3 separate regions of the Homo sapiens genome follow, and all the other regions are linked to region 2. The links come from fine-mapping of genetic effects on gene expression. A gene starts in region 2. Each other region holds a variant in brackets. All regions are shown on one strand. Distances are from middle to middle.

Region 1 (8,000 bases), 34 kb after region 2:
CTAGATCTGAGGAGGTCGGGGGGATGGGGATCCAGAACACTCTCCTCCCCACAGTAGCTGACGGGTCCGGTGAACGGACCTGAGGATCTGCCTGAAACGCTGGAGGAAACAGCCCGTCCGAAGTTGGGGTCCCCCAGCCATCTGCCCCACGGAGTTCTCTGTTCTGGAAACTTGGAGAGAGGGCAGCTCTGGATCCACACGTCACCCACTCCCGAGGTGGCCTGGGAGCACCTGCCGCGCCTGTCCTCGCAGGGCCCCTGCCCGGTGCTTGTTCCTTACCGCGGCGTGGCCTCCAGTCTCAGGACCCACTCTGTGAGGCAGGGAGGCCAGCTCGCCACGCCGCATTCTAGGCACAGGTCCAGAGACACACAGGGAAGGCCTGTGGCTAGGCGGACCGGGCGGCAGGGCTGGGGCCTGGGGAGTGCCCCCGAGAGGGAGGTGAGTGACCTGCCCATCCACCCAGCTGCCTACCCGGCCCTTCCCCGCATCATCTAGTAGATTATCTGGTATGCAGCAGGCCCCCTTACCTTGCCCTGGCTGTCAGTCTGGAACTCAGCCAGTTTCAAGGCAATCTTGGGATTCTTGCTGCCTGCAAAAACCGAAGTGAGGTGAACACCAGGCAGGCATCACCCGTGTGTGCCGAGAGCCGGCACGGGGGGCCTGGGCTGTGGGGTGACGTCCACAGAGAGGTGTACAATTGGAGTGGGGGAGGCAGGAGAAGCCAGGTGTCCCACGGTCTGTCTGTAGGCACATCGTCCTGCTGGAACAGGCATGACACCCTCAGGTGGGGACCTTCTGACTTTGGGCCTGGATCGCATTCCCAACAGTGATGTGGCATCTGGCTTTCTCATTTAAAAACACGGGCCACACCCTGTGCTGAGAGCTGGGGCTTGTAGGGGCCGCAGATACCAGGAAGATGCCATCCCTGCCTTGGGAGAGCTCCAGAGCAGACGGTGAAGCCCGAGGCATCACAGTAAAACTGACAACGTGACAAGTGGGGTGTGTCCCATGCAAAACCAGGGAGCCCGTGTGACAGCCAGACCTGCGCCCTCCGGAGGCCAATGGCGACAGAATAAGGGACCCAAGAGGCTTCTGAAGAGTGGGACTTAGTTCAGGCTCCGAAAGAGGGCGCGGGCCACAGCAGAGCGGAGAATGCTTATTTTTTTGGCTAGACCTACGAGAAACTCAACTCCAGCCCTCGTGGCTCTGGCCTCCAGGGCAGGTGACATCTCTGAGCCTGTTTTCTCATCTGTCATACGAGGGGGAAAAGACTGACTTAGCTCATTTGCAGTGGGAGTTGGAAAGACCGTACAGGAAGCTTCCATCTAGCACGGCACAGAGCAGGCACTCGCGGAGTATGGGCAATAACGATGCTCTTATATGGTCCCATGGGGGTTGCAAACCCAAGGCCTGAACGCGGAATCTGGGCTGCACGTGTGTTCTGTTTGGCTCCAGAGATATTTTTAAATAATTGGAAAGATGTTTAAGAATTGGGAGTGGCCGGGCGTGTGGCTCACGTCTGTAATCTCAGCATTTTGGGAGGCCGAGGCGAGAGGACCACTTGAGGCCAGGAGTTCGAAACCAGCCTGGGCAACAAAGCAAGACTCCATCTCTACAGAAAATTTAAATATTAGCTGGGCATGGTGGCACACACCTGTAGTCCCAGCTACCTGGGAGGCAGAGGTGGGAGGATCACTTGAGCCTAGGAGTTGGAGGCTGCAGTGAGCTGTGATTGCACCACTGTACTCCTGCCTGAGCCACAAGGTGAAACCTTGTCTCAAAAACAAACAAACAAACAAACAAACACCACTGTAGTGTGAGGGCCAAATCCAGCCTGCCTTCTGTTTTTGTATGGCTGAAAATCCTTCTTTCGTTCTGAGACGGTTAAGAAAACAAACAAACAAAACAAGAGTGACATTTTCGCTAATATGAAAATCATATGTATCTCAAGGTGAATTATTTGTAATCCAAACTTCAGTCAAGTTTCCTTGGCACATGGCTACGCCCATTCCTGCACGTGCCACTTCTGTGCTCCAGCAGCAGGGTGGGGCAGTTGCAAGAGAGCCTGCCTTCGTCTGGCCCTGGAAGCCTGAGATACCTGTGCCCTCATCCCTTCCAGAGACAGCTTGCTCACTTCTGAGCAATATGATCCGGTGGCCATGGTAAGCCAGGAGAAAGGGGCGGCCCCTGCAGGGCAGAAGCCTTCCTTCTACACCCCCATAGATGCCCAGAGCACACACATGCAGCTCAGAGGGCCTGGGGGACAGTGCACCTCACCAGCCATGCCCCAGGGGCCTCAGATCCCCGGCCCAGCCCCTCACATGTACCGGGCACTCACCTGTCCTGGGGTACCGATACGAGTCCGTCTTCCTTTCTTCTAGCGCAGGAGAGGGGACGTGAATGACCTCCACCTCGGACTCATCGACTTCCTCATACAGGATTCGCAGCGTCTTGAGGCCCTCTGAACCTTGGGTGGGGTGGTGGAAAAACTGCTGAGGGTGCCAGAGGCAGAGTCCCTGCCATCAGCACCCCCCGCCCCCTGCAGCACCGGGGCCTGAAGATGGGCACCGAGGGCTCTGAAACCAGAACCCCGGCTCTGCCATTCGCTAGACCTTATGCCAGTCCCAACTCTCTGGGCTTCAGTTTCCTCCCCTGTGCAGTGGGAAGCAGAGCAGGGCTACTCCCAGCATGAACTGGCATGGGAAGTGGCCACGTGGGGTGTAACGGGCTGAACTGTGTCCCCTCTTAGGGCAACAGCGATGTCTACAGTCGTTAAGGAACTCTCTAGGTGTTGGTATTGACAGACTGTGGAGGTGGTTTGAGGTGAAAGGAGTAAGGCGCAGGAAGGACACAGCCTGTGATTCCAGGAGGAAAAGCACGCCCGGGAGCATGTTGAAAAATGGAAGGGACCTACCTTCCCAGGAGGCTGTGGGGCACCACCAGTACCCAGTGAAGCGGTCGAACTCTTCCTGTATGACGAAGGTGGCCACACCCGCAGACTTGGGGTCATCCAGGACATTGGATAAACCTAGGGGGAGG[G/C]ACGGAGAGCATCAACAAGGGGTGAGCAGCCTGCTAACACTGGGGACAGCCAGGGGCTCAAGGAGAGCATGAGAGAGAGGGAGAGAGAAGGAGGGAAGGAAAGGGAAGGAGAGGGGGAGGGAGAGGGAGGGAGAGGGAGGGAGAGCTCGGAGCCGACTGCTTTCAAGCAGGGTTGCTCCACCCCACACTGTGGACACTGGGGCCCTCTTGGTCTCTGGGGTGGGGCCGTCCAGGGCACAGCAGGGTGCTGAGCAGTGTCCCTGGCCTCCACTCACCCCATGGCAAGCCAGGAGCACCCCCGCCCAAGTGTGCCGTCTAAAAACGTCTCTGGACATCGCCGAGTGGCCAGGTTTGGAAAGTGGGGCCCGGGCTTATGGGACGGAGAGGCAGCGATCAGTGACTTGAAACCAAGACAAGGAAGGATGGGGTCACTTCTGATGAGCAAGGGAGTGGAGAGAACACGCAGGAAGCAGGTGAGATGTGGCCTTGACTTGATGGGGCTGGACAGGCAGAGTGGAGGGGAAGGTGTGCAGGGGCAGAAATGCCCAGGGGCACCTGGAAGAGGGTCCAGAGCACCGTGGCTGGGCTGACGCCTGCAGCAGAAAACCACAGAGCGGCAGGGTGCGGTAGCTCATGCCTGTAATCTCAGGACCTTGGGAGGCCGAGGCAGGTAGATCATTTGAGGTCAGGAGCTCAAGAGCAGCCTGGCCAACATGGGGAAACCTCGTCACAACTAAAAATACAAAAAAAAAAAAAAAATTAGCCAGGCGTGGTGGCGGGCACCTGTAATCCCAGCTACTCGGGAGGCTGAGGCAGGAGAATCACTTGAACCCAAGAGGCGGAAGTTGCAGTGAGCCGAGATCATACCACTGCAGTCCACCTGGGCACTCCCGCCTGCGCTCCCGCCTGGGCAACTGCACTCCCACATGGGTGAGACTCTCTCAAAAAAAAAAAAAAGAAAGAAAGAAAGAAAGAAAACTACAGAGCGGCAGGGACGCCAGGACCTCCCGGGAGACATGGTAGGCTACAGAAGGTATGCACGGGAGGGTGGCTTGTGAGGGGTGTGTGCAGGAAGACCCTGGCTGTGGGGGCAATGGGGCCTTTCTGGAAGCTGGCCAGGTGGCTATGGTGGCCGTGCACAGGAGGGGCTGGCCCCACCTTGGTGGCAGAAGGTCAGCCGCCGCTCCTCGCCTGTCTCGATGTTGGCCACCCACAGGTCGCTGTTATTGATGAAGGAGAAGAAGGCAGGGTCGGCAGGGCAGATTTTGGGGTCCATCCGGGGCCCTGAGCACTGGGTCTTGATTTCCAGCGGTTTCATAGGGGACACCTGAGGACAGAGACGCCCAGCTCAGGGGGAGGGGCCCTCCACGCCACCCCCGCACACAGCCAGGGCCAGGGCTCACCATGAAGCCGTTCTTGCCGCCGTCGCGGCAGTGGAAGAGGCTGTTGCTGGCCTGGAAGAGGAAGAGGCCACTCTCGCTGTGGAAGTCGTAGGAGGTGATGCCGAAGACCCCCAGGCGTTTCCGCTCCCTCAGCAGCTCCTCCTCCCGAGAGTAGACCCCATGGTGGGGCGTGGCCTGGAAACATACAGGGGACAGGGGGCAGCGTCAGTGGGCAAAGAGGATCTCCCGCTGGCCAGGGCAGAGATCCTCGGGCTGGGGCATTCCCAGGGAATCTGACTTCGGGCCTCGCCAGAGAGAACTTCCTGTACTGGGCAGAATTGGCTGCCGGAGCCCTTGACACAGTGGGTGGCCAAAGATTGCCAGCGAACCTGGCCCTGCAGGACTGGCTGAGTGTCCTAGGAGGTGGCAGGGGAGACTCTGGGGCCAGAAGCCTCCTCACTTCCTGAGTTCCCTCCCCACAGACCCTCTCCATAGCAGATGGGGGCCCCTGGGAGGGGCTGTCCCTGCCCCACACCACCGGAGTACTCTCTCCGGGTCCCTAGTGCCATTCTTACAGACTCCCCACCCTCCTACCCTATTCACAATCCCTTCCCATCAAGAGCTTTCAATTTCGTAATCCCAGCACTTTGGGAGGCCGAGGTGGGCAGATCACGAGGTCAGAAATTCGAGACCAGCCTGGCCAATATGGTGAAACCCCGTCTCTACTAAAAATACAAAAATTAGCCGGGTGTGGTGGCACGCGCCTGTAGTCCCAGCTACTTGGGACGCTGAGGCAGAAGAATCACTTGAACCGGGAGGCAGAGGTTGCAGTGAGCCGAGATTGCGCCACTGCACTATAGCCTGAGTGACAGAGTGAGACTTTGTCTCAAAAAAAAAAGCAGAATCAAAAGCAAAATTACCCCTACACTCTGTGGAAAGCAGTGTAAACACAAGGACACTGGCTTGGGGACTCAGAGACAGGCCAAAGTGAGGGCCAGTGAACCAGTGGTGGAGAAAGTGGGAGTGTCACGATCTCAGCCACTGTTAGATATCATTATTGTTACATTGTTATGTTTATGTTGTTACTATGTTATAATGTTATGTTATTTTTATTGCTATATTGTTACTATTTTAGAGACTGGGATTCGCTGTCTCCCAGGCTGGAGTGCAATGGTGAGATCACGGCTCACTGTAGCCTTGCCCTCCTGGGTTCAAGAGATCCTCCCATCTCAGCCTACCAATTAGCTGGAACTACAAGGCGAGTGCCACCAGGCCTGGCTAATTTTATTTTTTGTAGAGACAGGCTCTTGCTGTGTTCCCCAGTCTGGTCTCAAATTCTTGGGCTCAAGCAATCCTCTTGCCTCGGCCTCCCAATCATCAAACACAAAAACACGCCAATCAATGCAAAAGGCATTTTTCCTCCCTCAACTATCCCCAGAGAGCCAACACTGGATGAGATTGATGATTAACCAGTCTCTCTAAAAGGGCCTCAAGCCAAGTTAATTCCCAATCTTTGGTGATGCCGTTAAAAGGAAGAGATGCTTTTGGTAAGAGTTTCTCTGTCGCTTGAGTACAGGTGGTCAGGGGGAGGAGGGAAGGCTCACCCGCCAGAGTCCACAGGACGGAGGGTTTGTGGGAACTCACAGCCGGTGGGGCAGAGAGGTGACCGAAGGCATGTATGGCCTGTGGGGCTGGCCTTTGCCACCTCCTCGCCCACGGTAGGGCCCACGCCTAATAGCACAGCTTACCTGGAAATGATCCAGCATCTGCTTCCAGGACAGGAGCAGCAGAGCCTCTTTCCGGACCTTCTTGGGAATCTCAGAGTAGAGGAGGGAGTTCTCTCGGCTGCCATATGGCATTCCTAAAGGGAGAAAGGAAACACCCAGAACGGGTACCCTGGCTCAGGATGGGGAGACGCCCTCAGCCTGCAGCTGGGCCCAGCTGGTTCCCTCTGCTTCTAGAACATTCTGCCAGGCCGCCGGCGGGACAGCCCTCCCCGGAAAGCTATGGATCCTGGGTTTGCTTAAGTAGGCAGTAGGGCCTTCCACCTGAGATATTTCTGCTGAATCTCACGGCCTGAATTACCGAAGAAACAGCACACAAGAGGCTGGGCATGGTGGCTCTTGTTTGTAATCCCAGCACTTTGGGAGGCCGAGGCGAGAGGACTGCCTGAGCCCAGGAGTTTGAGACCAGCCTGGGCAACATAGCAAGGCCCCGTCTCAAAAAAAAAAAAAAGAATAAAATAAAAGAAAAAAGAAAGAAAAATAAATCGCACACAAGAGAACAAGAAGGGCAGTCAGAAACAAACATCCAACTCTCAACAGGTTGGGTTCGGCTCTCCAAGGCCCTTTATCAAGGCTTTTGCAGACGACAAGAATTTAATATAGGATTAGAGGGAGGGCAAAACCATCAAAAAGGAATGAGGGCCAGGCGACATGGCTCACGCCTGTCATCCCAGCACTTTGGGAGGCCGAGGCAAGCAGATGACTTGAGGTCAGGAGTTCGAGACCAGACTGGACAACATGGTGAAACCCCATCTCTACTAAAAACACAAAAATTAGCCGGGCGTGGTGGCACGCGCCTGTAATCCCAGCTACTCGTCAGGCTGAGGCAGGAGAATCACTTGAACCTGGGAGGCAGAGGTTGCAGTGAGCCGAGATTGCGCCACTGTAGTCCAGCCTGGGTAACAGAGCAAGATTTTGTCTCAAAAAAGGGAATGGGGAAGCGTGCACCTGGTCCAGTATTTCCCAACCTCGCCCCTAATTACATTCGGGCCTGGACCATCCTCCGGGGTGGGGCTGTCCTGACCACTGCGAGGCGCTGAGCAGCATCCCTGTCCTCCGCCCACTCCATGCCAGGGGCACCCCACAGTCGTGACAACCACACATATCCCCAGGCATCTCCCAGTGTCCCCTGCAGGGGCAGAATCACCCCGACCTCAAACCACTGATTTAATCGAAGCTTCTGTAGAAAATGACGGTAGTGAGAGCTGCCAAGCGAGGGTTTTGGGTGGATTACATGAGGTAAGAAACGTAAAGCTCTCGGCACAATGTGTGTGACCCTCTGTGAAATCAGCGTATTTCATCAGTAAGCCGCGGCTTTCCACCTACGCATGTCTCTGGGCTTGGGATGGGTCTTACTGCGGAAGGCGCAATCAGGTCCTTAGTGGCAAATAAAATAACTGTGTATTTTCCAAATGGTCATGTCTTAGATCTGCTGGATGACAGTACAATTGTCATTAGAAAAGGGAATGGCAGAAGCAGGATGGTAACCCCTGGGAAGCCTCGGTTTCCCCTCTCCATGCGACACCACTGAAAAACCGGGACAGGGCTCCTCCAAGCATAAAGCTGTCCAGTAGCCCACAAACGTGACATGACTAACGACAAGTCACAGACAGCCCGGTGCCCTGGCCCCTCCTTGCTCTACTTTCAACCCTGAGTTTCTCCAGGACGAAGCCTCGGATTGGTGCTGTCCTGTCCTCTTTTCAGGACCTCCTCATACTCGCTTTTTTTTTTTTTTTTTTTTTTTTTTTCTGAGACACAGTCTCGCTCTGTCGCCCAGACTGGAGTGCAGTGGCAC
Region 2 (8,267 bases):
CAGAAGGGCAAAAGCCCTCCTGTCTGCTAACACACCATATGGGTGTGAAAACCAAGACTATTCCAGGTTGTCGGTGGAGCTGCAACAGGTACAAGCAAAATGGAAAATGCAGGCTGGGCATGGTGGCTCATGCCTGTAATCCCAGCACTTTGGGAGGCCAACGTGGGATGATCACTTGAACCCAAGAGTTCGAGACCAGCCTGGGCAACATAGCGAGACCCCATCTCTAAAATGACTGGCCTCTTGCACGATGTTACCACCGGGGAACCTGGTTAAACGGTACTTGGATCTCTCTGTAGGATTTCTTACAAGTGAATGTAAATCTACCATGATCTCAAAACATACAGTTTTACTTTTTTTTTTTTTTTTGAGATGGAGTCTCGCTCTGTCACCCAGGCTGGAGTGCAGTGGTGCGATCTCAGCTCACTGCAACCTCTGCCTCGTGGGTTCAAGCGATTCTCCTGCCTCAGCCTCCTGAGTAGCTGGGATTACAGGCGCGTGCCACCACGCCCTGCTAACTTTTGTATTTTCAGTAGAGATGGGGTTTCACCATCTTAGCAAGGCTGGTCTCAAACTCCCAACCTCAGGCGATCCACCTGCCTTGGCCTCTCAAAGTGCTGGGATTACAGGCGTGAGCCACCGCGCCCAGCCCAGTTTTACTTTTAAGAAAATGGACCCATGAATCCCACTTCTGGGTGGTTTTCCCACAGATGTAACTGCACTTGTACAATGAACCCTGGCCAAGGTTATTCACGGACTGGGTTGGAAGTAACCCTCAATCCATTAGTACGGGATTGTCAACTCCACACGTCCATGCAACTGAAGCGCTTTACATAGGATACAGAAAAATCTCTAGGAGGCCGGGCACCGGTGGCTCACACCTGTAATCCCAGCACTTTGGGAGGCCGAGGCAGGCTGATCATTTGAGGTCAGCAGTTCAAGATCAGCCTGGCCAACATGGCGAAACCCATCTCAAGGTGTTGACCGGGCTAGGCTCTTACTGGTAGCTCAAGGTCCTCTTCCAAGCTCTTGTGGTTGTGGCAGATTTCAGTTCCTCTTGGTTGCGGGACTGAAGTCTTCATTTCCTTGCTGCCAGCCAGAGGCTGTTCTCAGCTCCTAGAGGCCGCGTGTATTCCCTGCCCTGCAGTTCCCTCAAGGGCAGCAGTGGCGTATGTGTCCATGTGCTTCAAATCACCCTTTTTTTTTTTTTTTTTTTTTTTTTGAGACAGAGTCTCGCTCTGTCGCCCAGGATGGAGTGCAGTGGCGCGATCTTGGCTCGCTGCAAGCTCCGCCTCCCGGGTTCACGCCATTCTCCTGCCTCAGCCTCCCCAGTAGCTGGGACTACAGGTGCCCACCAAAACACCCGGCTAATTTTTTGTATTTTTAGTAGAGACGGGGTTTCACCGTGTTAGCCAGGATGGTCTCGATCTCCTGACCTTGTGATCCACCCGCCTCGGCCTCCCAAAGTGCTGGGATTACAGGCATGAGCCAGTGCGCCTGGCTCGCCCGGCTAATTTTTGTAGTTTTAGTAGAGACGGGGTTTCACCATGTTGGCCAGGCTGGTCTGGAGCTCCTGACTTCAGGTGATTCGCCAGCCTTGGCCTCCCAAAGTGCTGGGATTATAGGCATGAGCCACTGTGCCTGGCCCAAATCATCTTTACTGGCTCTTCTGCCACCAGCTGGAGACAACAGCCAGCAAGGAAACCGGGACCTTGGTCCCTGAACCACAAGTAACTGAATTCTGCCAACTAAGAGCTTGAAGGAGAGGATTCTTCTCCCAGCCCAGAGACTTTTTTTTTTTTTGAGACAGGGTCTTGCTCTGTTGCCCAGTAGCACAATCACGGCTCACTACAGCCTTGACCTCCTGGGCTCAAGCGATCCTCCCACCTCAGTCTCCCAAGTAGCTGGAACCACAGGTGCACGCCACCACGCTGGGCTAATTTTTTTATTTTCTGTAGAGATGGGGCATGAGCCACCATGCCTTGCCTGTGATACCTTTATTTATTTATTATTTATTTTTTGAGACAGAGTCTCGCTCTGTTGCCCAGGCTGGAGTGCAGTGGCACAATCTTGGCTCACTGCAACCTCCGTCTCCTGGGTTCAAGTGATTCTCCTGCCTCAGCCTCCTGAGTAGCTGGGACTACAGGCATGTGCCACCATGCCCAGCTAATTTTTGTATTTTTAGTAGAGATGAGGTTTTGCCATGTTGGCCAGGCTGGTCTCGAACTTTGACCTCAGGTGATCTGCCCGCCTCAGCCTCCCAAAATACCTTGAGTTTGGTTTTATGAAGCACACAACTGAGCTGACCCAGACTTCTGACCTACAAAGCTATGAGATAATAAATGGGTGCTGTTTTAAGCCCCTAAGCTGTGATAACTTGTTGCACTGCACATAAAATACAACATCCCAACAGATGCTCATGGGGATGGCAGACTCCCATCTCCCCTCCCTCCTTCTGTCCAGACATTTGCTTGCTCTGTAGAATAATAACAGCAGAATCTGTCGTCACTGTTTAATGCCAATACTCTCCCTTTTTATTGGTTTAGGAAGAGTCATTCAATGAGTGTAAGGTGATATAGGTGAGACCCAACCCTGCTGTCTGCTACAGAACATCTCCCTACAACAATGGATACTGTCACAGTAAGCTAGAGGGAATTTTGAACAACTCACCTCATTGGTCCCTCCTTGAGAGGCGTAAGTGAACATACACGTATATTTGTCCTAGAGAATGGAAGGAAAAAAAAGGTTTGGTAGAAGGAAATTTTTATTTTGTTTAAGAGACGGGGTCTTGCTGTCACCCAAGCTGGAGTGCAGGGGCACAATGACAGCTCACTGCAGCCTCGAACTCCCAGGTTTGAGTAATCCTCTTGCCTCAGCCTCTCAAGTAACTGAGACAATAGGTACGCAACCACCACACCCGACTAATTTTTTTTTTTTTTTTTGAAGCAGAGTCTTGTTCTGTCGCCCAGGCTGAAGTGGGATGATCTCAGCTCACTGCAACTTCTGCCTCCCGGGTTCAAACGATTCTCCTGCCTCAGCCTCCTGAGTACTTGGGATTACAGGCACCTGCTACCACACCTGGCTAATTTTTCGTATTTTTGTAGAGATGGGTTTTGCCATGGGACCTGGACAAGTGAAAACTTTTCTGAGCCTCTAGTTTCTCTCTGTTTCTCTTTTTTATGTGAAGCATTTTCTCATCTGTAACTTGGGCCTAACATATAAAGGACTTGGCATCACACCTAACTATAAGGAAGTAGTCAACAAACTGGCCTGGCACAGTGGCTCACGCCTGTAATCCCATCACTTTGGGAGGCCGAGGTGGGCGGGTCACCTGCGGTCAGGAGTTCAAGACCAGCCTGGCTAACATGGTGAAATCCCATCTGTACTAAAAATACAAAGATTAGTAGTCCCAGCTACTTGGGAGGCTGCGGCAGGAGAATGGCATGAACCTGGGAGGCAGAGGTTGCAGTGAGCCAAGATCGCGCCACTGCACTCCAGCCTGGGCGACAGAGTGAGGCTCCATCTCAAACAACAACAACAACAATTATCCGGGTGTGGTGGCACACGTCTGTAATCCCAGGTACTGGGGAGGCTGAGGCAGAAGAATTGCTTGAACCCAGAAGGCTAAGGATGCAGTGAGCCGAGATCCCGCCACTGCACGCAAGTCTAAAAAGAAATAGTCAAAAAACAGTAAAGATACTGTTATTACAGGCGGGGAAAGGGAGGCTGAGAGGGGAAAGGACTTTGCCGACAAGCTGAGTACAGGGCTGAGGGCCCGGCCTCACACCCTCGGTGAGGGGGGACCTTGTGCAATGGAAGGAAGGAGCACTTCCTCCCTCTTCGGAGCTGCAGCGACTGATTTCCTTCAGGCCCAGGAGGGCAGATGCCCTTTAGCCTCCTGCCGCTCCCATCACTGACCCCTCCCCACCTCTGCGTCTGGAGGGCAGGGGTGCCTGGACACTCCAGGCAGGCGACAGGTGACAGGTGATCACGCCCCCTCAACGCCGCCGGGGCCCACAAGGCCCCGCTCCCTATGAGTTCAGTCCTGCCCCAGTGATGACCCCGGCCTCACGGTCCCGCGCCCCCCACTCAGCCTCCGACCCTAACAATCCGCACCCCTTCTTCAGTACCCACCTCCGCGGTCCGCGCCCCCTCCTCGGGCCCCGCCCCCAATGCTCCGCGCCCCCTCCCCGGGCCTGCCAGCACTCAAATATCCGGGACGGCGGTGGCACGTACCCCCGGGCCCACGTTATGGGAGAAGGAATGCACGACGCCGCCGGGCCGCACGTCAAACGCCACCGTCGTGGGCTCGGACACCGCCTCCGCCGGCCTCAGCGCCACGGCCCCTAGGAGCAGCGCGGCCCACAAGCTCGCGCCGACGCCGTTCCACCCTCCGCTGGGCGCCGCCATGTTGGACTAGGGTCCTCAGGGCAGGGGCGGGTAGACGGGGCGCGGCGAGGGACACGTGGAGCGTCCGCCGGAGGCCACGTCGGCGTCGGCTGTCCACGTGACCCGGCACGCCCCGCCCTGTCCACCGCCCGGGGCCACCATCTTGGGGGCGGGACTTTGTCGAGGGGGCGGGACTTTTGCCGAGGGGGCGGGGCCGCCGAGGGGGCGGGGCCGCCGAGGGGGCGGCCTCGTACCCTAGGGACCCTGCGTAGCCCGGCGATCCTTGGAGGGTCCCTCAGGTGGTAATGGAGTTCGTTTTGGGGTCTCAGGGTCCCTCACCAGCCGTGTGACTGACTGCAGCTCTTTCAGTTAGGAGATGTACAGGGAGTGAGGGAAATCGAAGGTCACCATTAGGCGAACTTCTCATAATCGTTGCAGCCAAGATGTGTGTGCATCGATATTCAAAATTAGCAGAGGGAAAGTAGGATGAGAAGCAGGATGCTTGCTTTTGTTTCCCTCTTGTTGCCCAGGCTGGAGGGCAGTGGCGCGATCTCGGCTCACTGCACTCTCCGCCTCCCAGGTTCAAGTGATGCACCTGCCTCAGCCTCCCGAGTAGCTGGGACTACAGGTGTTCACCACCACCCCTGGCTAATTTTTGTATTTTTAGTAGAGACAGGTTTTCACCATGTTGGCCAGGCTGGTCTTGAGCTCCTGACCCCAAGTGATCCGCCTGCCTCGGCCTTCCAAAGTGCTGGGATTACAGGTGTGAGTCATCACGCTCGATCAGTCTGTGTATTTGTTAATAGGATTATGTGGGTGTTCACTTCCTGGCTTTGATAACCTGGCTTGTCCTAGGGGTTACAGACGATGTTCACATTAGGGGGAGTTGGATGAAGCGTATTAGGAAACCCTACAGTTTCTGCAGATTTTCTGGGAGGCAAAAATTATTTCAAAATAAAAAGTTAAAAAGAAAATAATCCCTACCTCAAGGAGTTGTTGGGAGGAGTAAGTGAGGGAATTAAGTTCCCACACCGGGACGAATGAACTGAGAATTATATATTGTAGCTATTGCTATCATTAGATCCCAGGTTTTCAACTAGAGAAGGAAGTCATTCTTTGGTTACAAATGGCTTAACATTTCAAGAAAACACCAGTGGCCAGGCCTGGGGGGTCAATAATTAAGCTGGTGTTTCTAGTCCTTCCCAACTGGCAAAAAACAGAATCCAGAGAGAAAACGTCATAGATGACTCCTAAGATGGGTTATAATTCACCCTTTGAGGAATTAAATCACTCTACTCCATAGCTACGGAGGGTGGTGAGCCCCAGGGAGGTGAGAAGGATCCCCGTGGAGGCTGACTCCTCTGCCAATGACAGAAGTCCAAGCCAGTTGCCTTTCTGCAGTGGCAGCCTGTTCTAAATTGGGATACCTGCTTGCGTTAGGAAATTTATTGGCCGGGCGTGATACTTCATGCCTGTAATTCCAACCCTTCGGGAGGCCAAGGTGGGTGGATTGCTTGACCTCAGGAGTTCTAGACCATTCTGGGCAACATAGTGAGACCCCATTCCTATATATATATTCATATATTCACATATGTGAATATATATATTCATATATTCACATATGTGAATATATATATTCATATATTCACATATGTGAATATATATATTCATATATTCACATATGTGAATATATATATTCATATATTCACATATGTGAATATATATTCATATATTCACATATGTGAATATATATTCATATATTCATATATACTTATATATTCATATATTCATATATACTTATATATTCATATATATGAATATATATTCATATATTCATATATATGAATATATATTCATATATTCATATATACTTATATATATATTCATATATTCATATATACTTATATATATTCATATATTCATATATATGAATATATATTCATATATATGAATATATATATTAATATATTCATATATATATACTTATATTCATATATTCATATATATACTTATATTCATATATTCATATATATACTTATATTCATATATTCATATATATACTTATATATATTCATATATTCATATATATACTTATATATATTCATATATTCACATATATACTTATATATATTCATATATTCATATATATACTTATATATATATATATTTAAAGATATTTTAAGATTATTTTTTAAAGATAGCCGGACATGGTGGTGGGCGCCTGTAATCCCAGCTACCTGGGAGGCTGGGGCAGGAGAATCTTTTGAACCCAGGAGGCATAGGTTACGGTGAGCTGAGATCATGCCACTGCACTCCAGCCTGGGTCCCAGAGCAAGACTCCGTCTTAATAAATAAAGAAATAAACAAACAAATCTCTTCCTCCATGCAGCTGTCTGTTCTGGACCCATGAGACACTGTCTCCATAAACTGGACAAGCACAGAGCAGCCCTGTTCCTTAGGTGAGTGACACAGCACGGTTCCACTGATGGAGTCCCCATTACCTTACCACGGTGTTCAACTTTCAGCCTGTCACCATGAAGGATTCGATGCATGGCCGAGCTCTGCGGCTAACAAGGAATTTCAGTTGTGAGCTGTTGGGAGTCTGCTACGGAACCCAGGCAGGTTGTGCGTATGCGTGTGCATGCGTGTGTGTGTTCTTTCCAGAAAGGTTTCGGCCCCAAGTTTCACCCACCCACCACAAATCATCACACTAAAAGGATTAAAAGAAAAAACAAGGCTGGCCCCAGTACTTTGGGAGGCAGATCACTTTGAGCTCAGGAGTTTAAAAACTGCCTGGGCAAGATGGCAAGACACCGTCCCTATAAAAAATACAAAAACATTAGCTGGGCATGATGGCTTGTGCCTGTAGTCCCACTTACTTGGGAGGCTGAGGCCAGAGGATGACTTGAGCCATGGAAGCAGAGGTTGCAGTGAGCTGAGATTACACCACTGCACTCCAGCCTGGGTGACAGAGCGAAACCCTGTGTCCAAAAAAAAAAAAAAAAAAAGGAAAGAAAGAAAAAGAAAAGAAAACAAGGCTGGACACAGTGGCTCTTGTAATCTCAACACTTTGGGAGGCCAAGGTGGGAGGATCACTTGAGCCCAGGAGGTCGAGGTTGCAGTAAGCTGTGATTATACCACTGCATTCCTGCCTGGGTGACAGAGGAGCAAACAACAAATTATTCCACGGATCCCACTAATCATGATATGAAATCTGTCAGTCCTAAAGGACAAGATTCGATCACACAAATATTAGATTATTTATTTATTTTTTTTTTTAAATTTGAGACAAGGTCTTGCTCTGTCGCCCAGGCTGAAATGCAGTGGTAGTTTCAGCTCCCTACAGCCTTAACCTCCTGGGCTCAAATGATCCTCCCACTCAGCCTCCCAAGTAGCTGGGATTACAAGGCATGCAACACTCACCCAGCTATTATTATTATTATTTTTTTGTAGTGATGGGGTTTATGCCATGTTGCTGTGGCTAGTCTCAAACTCCTGTGCTCAAATGATTCACCCACCTTGGCCTCCCAAAGTGCTGGCATTATAGGTGTGAGCCACTGTGCCTGGCCTCCTTTTTGTGTGTGTGTGTGTCTGTGTGAGACAGGGTCTCACTCTGTTGCCCAGGCTGGAGAAACCTCCTCAGCTCACTGCAACCTCCTCCTCCTCCAGGGCTCAAGTGATCCTCCCACTGCAGCCTCCTGAGTAGCTGGGACTACAGGCGTGCACCATTGCGCTGGGCTAATTCTTCAATTTTTAGTCGAGATGGGGTTTCACCATATCGCCCAGGCTGGTCTCAAACTCCTGGGTTCAAGTGATCTGCTGGCCTCAGCCTCCCAAAGTATTGCGATTACAGGCGTGAGCCACCACACATGGCCTTT
Region 3 (8,267 bases), 26 kb before region 2:
CCCTTTAACTGTAGGGCCGCAGGTGCTCAGGCCAGATTCCAGAACCCTGAGGGCATTCCAGGCGGTGGGCAGCTGGGCCAGCCGTGCGGAGGTGGGCATGACTGTAGCTTCTAGCTAAACCAGGCATCGGTCCAGGCATCGGTGGCGGGGAGCCAGGCCTAGGCCAGCCCGGGCCCACCCAGACTGGCCCCTAATGAGCTCCCAAGTGGCCTGTGGGGACTTGGCCTCAGTTTTGCCAGCTGTGAACTGGGACCGTCGCTGCTAAGGTAATTGGCAGGTGATCTGAAGGACACCTGCCGCCTCCTGGCCTTTTCTGTGAAGTCGAACTAGGCCCATTTCCTGGGATGGGAAACTAAGGCCTAGAAAGAGGCCAATGCTTCCAATGTTTGTCCAGGGAAGTGGGGACAGAGGCAGGACAGAATCTGTTTTCTCTGCATCCTCACATTTCCCAGCACCTTCTCTATGGAGGGGGGAAGGGCTGGTGGAGGAGCAGCCCCAGGTGTAAACAGGCCGCCAGAGTTTATTTCCTGAGCCAGTCCCAGCTCAGCTGGAGGCGATGAACGCCTTGGGAGGCCCCAGGGGGGCCAGCCCAGTGGTGGCGGAGCTTGGACCAATCTAGGTTTGAGCTCTGCCACCCGCATGATATCTTGAACCAGTTTTTCAATTCTGCGGAGCCTCAGTTTCCTCATCTGTAAAACAGGAGTGGGTCGTAACTCCCCAAGTTGAGGGCTGCTGGGGGATCAGATGCAGGAATACAGGCCCTGCTCATAACCTGCCTGACTCTCGCTGTGGCTCTGCCCCAGTCACACTGGCCTCCTCCTGTTTCTCCAACACCCCAGGCGAGGTCCTCTCTCAGGGCCTTTGCATGGGCTGTGCCCTCTGCCACTACGGCAGGTCCGAGGGCGCCAACTTTGAAACATAACAAGCTCCCTGGATGGGCCGGACCCAGGACCTGCACAGGCAAGGGCTGGGAGGGGCAGAGGAGGGGCCGCTCAGGGACGCTGTACCTATGGAAACCGTGAACAAAGGGCTGTCTCCAGCCACACAAACACCTGGGTGAATCGGGCACTGGCCAGAGGCTGGAGCAGCCTGGGATACAGGTGGTGGGTGAGTGCCTGGACCCCTGCAGGGAATATGGGGCCGGGGGGGGGACTTGAACCCTGCTCCAATGGTGGGGTGGCTCTGCAGACGGGTGCAGGTCTGAGGCCCCGCGGTACGGCCCCTCCCACTGTGTGGCCTTGGACCGACGGTCAGGTGCCCCCAGAGCCTCAGTTTCCTCATCCCCGTTCCCCCAGGGGTCAGCCCAGGTGGGTGAGGGGTCTTTTGATTGCTTGACAATTCAGTATGGTGGGTTCCGGAGGCCTCAGTGTCCCTGTCTGTCCAATGGGGCCACGAAAGGGTGCCTTGAGGACAAAACTCCAGCCGTTGACAGGGGAACACTCCTCCCAGAGAGACGTCAACGCTAAAAAATGACTCACACTTGCCCAGGTACAGCTCAGGTGTTACAGACGGGGAGCAGGGCAAGGAGGCAGAGCGAGAGGCAGGAACGGCCCAGTTCCACAGCATGCCTGCCCCTTCCCAGCATCTCCCGACACCCCTCAGCAGATGACCTCCCTGGAATCACACCCGCTCGAGCTTTGACGCAGGGACCTCTGGCAGAGTTCTTGGGATCTTGTAAATCCCCAGCTTCTAGGCCTCAGTTTCCCCATCTGTCCAATGGGGCTGGTCATCTCCTTTTTCTTGTGGGGCTGAGATAACTGTGGGGAGGGAGGGTGCTTTGAGGGGTGGGGGAGATTCAACAAGATATTGTTAAAAGCCCGAGGAGGGGATTACAGGACACAGTACTTCTAGAAGCTTCCTAAGGCTTCGATCCTTCCCCTCTGGGGTGGGCTCTGGGAGAGACGAGACTTGAACCCCAAATGTGCCATTGACTAGGATGAGGAAAGGATTGCACTAGGTTAAAGGCTGGGTTCAAATTCTGATTCTGCCACATCACTGCTTTATAAACAGGCAAGCTCCTGACCCTCTGTGACTCAGTTTCCTTATAACCAAAAACTTGCAGGTCCATCTAGAGAATTTCCCAGCCTGGGCAACATGGTGAAACCCTGTCTCTACTTAAAACAAAGAAAAAAAAATTAGCCAGGTGTGGTGTCGCAGGCCTGTAGTCCCAGCCACTCTGGAGGCTGAGGTGGGAGGATCACCTGAGCCCAGGGAGGTTGAGGCTGCAGTGAGCCGAGCTCATGCCACTGCACTTCAGCCTGGGCGACAGGAGTGAAACCCTGTCTCAAAGAAAAAGAAGAGAATTGGCTGGGCGCCGTGGCTCACGCCTGTAATCCCAGCACTTTGGGAGGCTGAGGTGGCCGGATCACCTGAGGTCAGGAATTCGAGACCAGCCTGGCCAAGAGGGCAAAACCCTGTCTCTACTAAAAATACAAAAATGAGGCGGGCGTGGTGGTGGGTGCCTGTAATCCAGCTACTCAGGAGGCTGAGGCAGGAGAAACACTTAAACCCAAGAGGCAGAGGTTGCAGTGAGCCGAGATTGCACCACTGCTCTCCAGCCTGGGTTGACAGAGTGTGAGACTCCATCTCAAAAAAAAAAAAAAAATTAAAAATATACACATAAAATAAATAAAATAGATGGGGGATCTGGGAGGGCTTCCTGAGGAGGGGCCATGTAAACCCAGACCTGGATGACAAGAAGGAAACAGCCATGTGGAGACCTGGGAGAAGAGCAGCTCAGGCAGAGGGCACAGGTTGTGTAAAGGCCCTGGGGCAAGATGGCGCCTGGCATGGTAGAGGAGCAGCAAGGAGGCCCGTGGGGCTGGAGCAGTGAGGAGGAGGAGAGAGGGAGGAGGGGAGGGCAGGGAGGGGACAGGGCAGGGTGCGCAGGATCTTATGGGCTGCCAGGAATACTTGGCTTTGACCCCAAGGGAGGTGGGAGCCATGGAGGGTGGTGGGCAGGGGAAGGATGGAACCTGACTCAGGTACTCACAGGCACCCATTGGCTGCTACAGGGAGGACAGACGGGGGGCATGGGGATAGATGGTGCTGAGGGACGAGGGGACCAGGATGGAGGCTGTGGGGGAGATAAGAAGTGGGTTGCGTTAGGCCAGGCAGGGTGGCTCATGTAATCCCAGCACTTTGGGAGGCTGAGGCAAGTGGATCACCTGAGGTCAGGAGTTGGAGACCAGCCTGACCAACATGGTGAAACCCCATCTCTACTAAAAATACAAAAATTACCCAGGCATGGTGGCACGTGTCTGTAATACCAGCTACTCAGGAAGCTGAGGCAGGAGAATCACCTGAACCCAGGAGGCGGAGGTTGCAGTGAGCCGAGATCACGCCGCTGCACTCCAGCCTGGGCAACAGAGTGAGACTCTGTCTCAAAAAAAAAAAAAAAGTGGGTTGCATTGGGACACATTTAGGGGCTGGATGCACCTCCTGCCAGGTGATCCTAGGCTTCTCTGCACTCTAATAATTTATTGCTTGGGCTGAGGCAAGCCTGTCCCCTCCTCTGCAGAGTCATGGGCTGTGGGTAGCTGATAATTCATGTTTGGCCCTCGAACCCTTTCTCCAGTGGAAATCTGGCCACAGTGGAAAGTGTCCAGGCTCCCCGCCACAACCCAGCAGGCAGCTGGCCCCTGCCCATCCATGGGGTGGTCCTGAGGGTGCTGGGGAACCCAGTTTGAGAACAACTGATGTCACCCCCAACTTGGGCCAACAGATTCCCCTCTCTCTTTTGCCATAACTAAAATGGACACTGGCGAAGTATGGCGGCTCATGCCTGTAATCCTAGCATTCTGGGAGGCCGAAGCAGGAGGATCGCTTGAGCCCAGGAGGAGA[C/A]CAGCCTGGCCAACATGGCAAAACCCCATCTCTACTAAAAATACAAAACTTAGCCAGGCATGGTGGCAGGTGCCTGTAATCCCAGCTATTTGGGAGGCTGAGGCAGGAGAATTGCTTGAACTGGAGAGGTGGAGGTTGCAGTGGGCTGAGATCGCGCAACAGAGCGAGACTCCATCTCAAAAAATAAATAAATAATAAAATTGGCCGTTCACGGTGGCTTATGCCTGTAATCCCAGCACTTTGGGTGGCCGAGGCGGGTGGATCACCTGAGGTCAGGAATTCGAGACCAGCCTGACCAACATGGAGAAAACCCCGTCTCTACTAAAAATACAAAATTAACCGGGCGTGGTGGCGCATGCCTGTAATCCCAGCTACTTGGGAGGCTGAGGCAGGAGAATCACTTGAACCCAGGAGGCAGAGGTTGCAGTGAGCTGAGATCATGCCATTGCACTCCAGCCTGGGCAACAAGAGTGAAACTCCGTCTCAAAAAAATAAAATAAAAATAAAATAAAATGGACACTGGCCAAGTGTGGCAGCTCACGCCTGCAATCCCAGCACTTTGGGAGGTCAAGGCGGGAGGATCACTTGAGCCCAGGAGTTCGAGACTAGCCTGGGCAACATAGCAAGACGCCATGTCTACCAAAAAAAAAAAAAAAAAATTAACCAGGCATGGTGGCACATACCTGTAGTCCCAGCTACTCAGGAGGCTGAGGTGGGAGGATCACTTGAGCCCAGGAGGTCGAGGCTATAGTGAGCTATAATGGTACCACTGCACTCCAGCCTGGGCAACAGAGTAAGACCTTGTCTTAAAAAAAAAATGAATAAATAAAAATAAAATGGACACCGGCTTGCAAGTCCTGAGTCATGGATTTTTTTTTTTTTTTTTTTTTTTTTGAGATAGAGTCTCACTCTGTTTCTCAGGCTGGAATGAAGTGGAGCTCACTGCAACCTCTGCCCCCCAGGTTCATGCGAGTCTCGTGACGCAGCCTCCCGAGTAGCTGGGATTACAGGCGTGTGCCACACACGGCTAATTTTTGTATTTTTAGTAGAGATGGGGTTTCACCATGTTGGCCAGGCTGGTCTTGGACTCCCGACCTAAGGTGATCTGCCCGCCTCGACCTCCCAAAGTGCTGGGATTACAGGCATGAGCCACCACGCCCAGCCTGTGAGTCATGGGTCTTAAAGGGCTTGGTGCAGTGGGACCCTGGGAGTCGGTGGGATGAGGCCTGGGATCACTGGCCTCGGCGGGAAGAGGCCTGAGGCCCCCCCTGGGCCCCCGGACTGAGTGCAGCCGGGGCTGAGACAAGACAGATGGAGCGGCTGGCGTGCACCTGCAGAGCAGATCCATCAATTATTGACACTCTGTGAGGTGCATGAAGAATTCATGGGACAGGGGTGGGGACGGCAGGGACTTGTGACATAATTGCAGCCAGCTCACCAGAGCCACCTCCTGTGTTTTCAGGAATTTTGCCATCTGGTAGTTAAACGCAGCCATTATTTAACGTGGGAGAATATAAACTTATAGTTAAGGCTGGGCGTGGTGGCTCCCACCTGTAATCCCAGCAGTTTGGGAGGCCGAGGCGAGTAGATCACTTGAGGCCGGGAGTTAGAGACCAGCCTGGCCGACATGGCCAAACCCCGTCTCTACTAAAAATACACAAATTTGTATTTTTGTACAAATACAAATACACCAGCTGGGTGTGGTGGCATGCACCTGTAGTCCTAGCTACTTGGGAGGCTGAGGCTGAGGCAGGAGAATCGCTTGAATCCGGGAGGCAGAGGTTGCAGTGAGCTGAGATTTGGCCACTGCACTCCAGCCTGGGAGACAGAGCAAGACTCCATCTCAAAATACATACAAACATACATACATACATAAACTTATAGTTAAATAAAGTACATTTAAGCCAGGGGTGGTAGCTCACACCTGTAGTCCCAGCACTTTGGGAGGCTGAGGCAGGAGGATCCGTCTCAAAAAAAAAAAAAAAAAGGAATATAGGGAGCAGGGGAAGAGTCAAGGGAGCCAGGGAGTTGGTGCCTGGTCACCCATTTTGCAGATGGGAAAGCTGCCCCCATGCATGGGGCCTGCCAAGGGTCACAGCAGGGAGACCTCAGAGCTGTGGACGGACCTGGACAGAGGCTGTGGACAGGGCTGAGGCCTCCTGGCTGTTCCTGTAACAAGCGTGACACAGCCCTGCCCCAGGGCCTTTGCACAGGCTGTGCCCTTTGCCTGGAGCATCTTCCCGCAGACCCTGTCATTGCAGGCCCAGTTCAACTGGCCCAGCCTCTCCCTAGAGAGGCCCTCCTGGTTACCCTGAACTTCATCCCCCACCCCCGTGGCCCATATCTCTCTTCCTGAAATTAACTTGTTTGTTTCTATTTATTGGTTACCGGCACCTCCTCCTTCCAGCAGGGGAACAGTTTTTGCACCCAGGCTGGAGTGCAGTGGAACAATCTCGACTCCCTGCAACCTCCGCCTCCCAGGTTCAAGCGGTTCTCCTGCCTCAGTCTCCCGAGTAGCTGGAATTACAGGTGCTCGCCACCACGCCCGGCCGACTTTTTTTTTTTTTTTCAGTTGAGTCCGGGTCTCACTATGTTGGCCAGGCTAGTCTTGAACTCCTGGCCTCAATTGATCCTCCTCCCTCTGCCTCCCAAACTGCTGGGATTACAGTTATGAGCCACCGCACCTGGCCAATCATTGTTTTAAAGTGTACAATTTATAACCAGAAAGTTATGTGACCATCATAAATTTCTGGAATCTCTAATTCCAGAACATTCCATTACCACTCACCCCAAAAAAACCTGGTTCCCAATTTAGCAATCGCTTTCCATTTTCCCCTCTTCCAGTTTCCAGCACCCGCGAGTCCGCTTTCTGCCCTTGTGGACAGGCCTCTCCTGAACATTTTTTTTTTTTTGAGATGGAGTCTCGCTCTGTCACCCAGGCTGGAGTACAGTGACGTGATCTTGGCTCACTGCAAGCTCCGCCTCCCGGGTTCACGCCATTCTCCTGCCTCAGCCTCCCGAGTAGCCAGGATTACAGGTGCCCGCCACCGCGCCCCGCTAATTTTTTGTATTTTTAGTAGAGACGGGGTTTCACCGTGTTAGCCAGGATGGTCTCGATCTCCTGACCTTGTGATCCGCCCGCCTCGGCCTCCCAAAGTGCTGGGATTGCAGGCGTGAGCCGGTGCCCGGCCCTTCCTGAACATTTCATAGAAGTGGGATCACACACTTTGTGGCCTTGTGTGTCTGGCTTCTGTCACTGGGAATGATGTCCTCAAGGTGCATCCACGCTGGAGCTTGTGTGTGAGCCTCGTTCCTTTTATGGCTAGAGAACATTCCATTGTTTGGACCGATCTCATTTTGTTTATTCATTCACCCATTAATGGACATACGGACATTTGAGTTGCTTCCACTTGCAGGCTACCCTGGGTCACGCCGCTGTAAACTGTGACGTGCAAAACAAGTGTTTGCGTGGTGTATGCTTGTGTTTCTCTTGGGTAGATCCCCCAAAGTGGAATTGCTGGGTCCTATGGTAACTGTGTGTTTAGATGTCTGAGGAGCCGTCGGACTGGGTTTTTTTGTTTTGTTTTTTGTTTTTTGTGACGGAGTCTCGCTCTATCACCCAGGCTGGAGACCTCGGCTCACTGTCACTGCAACCTCCACCTCCCGGGTTCAAATGATCCTCCTGCCTCAGCCTCCAGAGTAGCTGGGATTACAGGTGCCTGCCACCATGCCCAGCTAATTTTTTTTGTATTTTTAGTAGAGATAAGGTTTCACCATGTTGGCCAGGCTGATCTCAACTCTTCACCTCAGGTGATCTGCCCACCTCAGCTTCCCAAAGTGCTGGGATTACAGGTGTGAGTCAGTGCACCTGGCTTTTTTTTTTTTTTTTTTTTTTTTCCTTTTGAGACAGGGTTTTGCTCTGTTGCTCAGGCTGGAGTGCAGTGGTGTGATCATAGCTCACTGCAGCCTTGACCTCGTGGGCTCAAGCGATTCTCCCCCTCTCAGCCTCCCGAGTACCTGGGACCACAGACCCGTGCCACCATGCCTGGCTAATTAAAAAAAATTTTTTTTTGTAGAGATGGGATCTCGCTATGTTGCCCAGGCTGGTCTTGAACTTCCCAGTTCAAGCAATCCTCCTGCCTTGGCCTCTTAAAGTGTTGGGATTACAGGTGTGAGCCACCTTGCCTGGCCCAGATGATTTTGTAATGAGGAGGCAGCTTGGGGTCTAGAAAGCCAGGGCCTTAGCAAGGCAGGGATGGGATCTGTTTTGATGCCTGCTGTATCCCCAGTGCCTCTGTGGTCTCTTCTGCAAAGCAGGCAACCTGGCCAGTACCAGGTGGGAATGACGAATAGGCACAGGTCGCTGGCTCAGGACACTGGGGTTTGGTTACAAGCTTCTGCCCCAGGACAGCTGGTGCTCCATA

Evidence for each region. PIP is the estimated chance that this variant, and not a neighbour inherited with it, causes the effect.
Region 1: its variant is fine-mapped to the expression of MYDGF in whole blood (TOPMed, PIP 0.98).
Region 3: its variant is fine-mapped to the expression of MYDGF in whole blood (TOPMed, PIP above 0.99).

What each region holds. Positions count from the first base shown.
Region 1 is chr19:4,699,689-4,707,688 of GRCh38, forward strand. It overlaps DPP9 (dipeptidyl peptidase 9), which reads right to left. Exons shown (of 22, transcript NM_139159.5): 5 at 6,170-6,282; 6 at 4,443-4,616; 7 at 4,198-4,366; 8 at 2,915-3,028; 9 at 2,339-2,467; 10 at 528-589. Among named protein-coding and RNA genes, the nearest start is that of DPP9, 20 kb to the right of the region's middle. RefSeq lists enhancers at 4,020-5,219, 4,242-4,742, 4,743-5,243. The variant G/C (reference allele first, on the strand shown) is at 3,040.
Region 2 is chr19:4,665,925-4,674,191 of GRCh38, forward strand. MYDGF (myeloid derived growth factor) reads right to left here and starts at 4,418. Exons shown (of 6, transcript NM_019107.4): 1 at 4,237-4,418; 2 at 2,671-2,721. The coding sequence starts at 4,410. RefSeq lists a silencer at 4,418-4,807.
Region 3 is chr19:4,639,894-4,648,160 of GRCh38, forward strand. All of the region lies in intron 1 of TNFAIP8L1 (TNF alpha induced protein 8 like 1), which reads left to right. Among named protein-coding and RNA genes, the nearest start is that of TNFAIP8L1, 4.5 kb to the left of the region's middle. RefSeq lists an enhancer at 1-623. The variant C/A (reference allele first, on the strand shown) is at 3,844.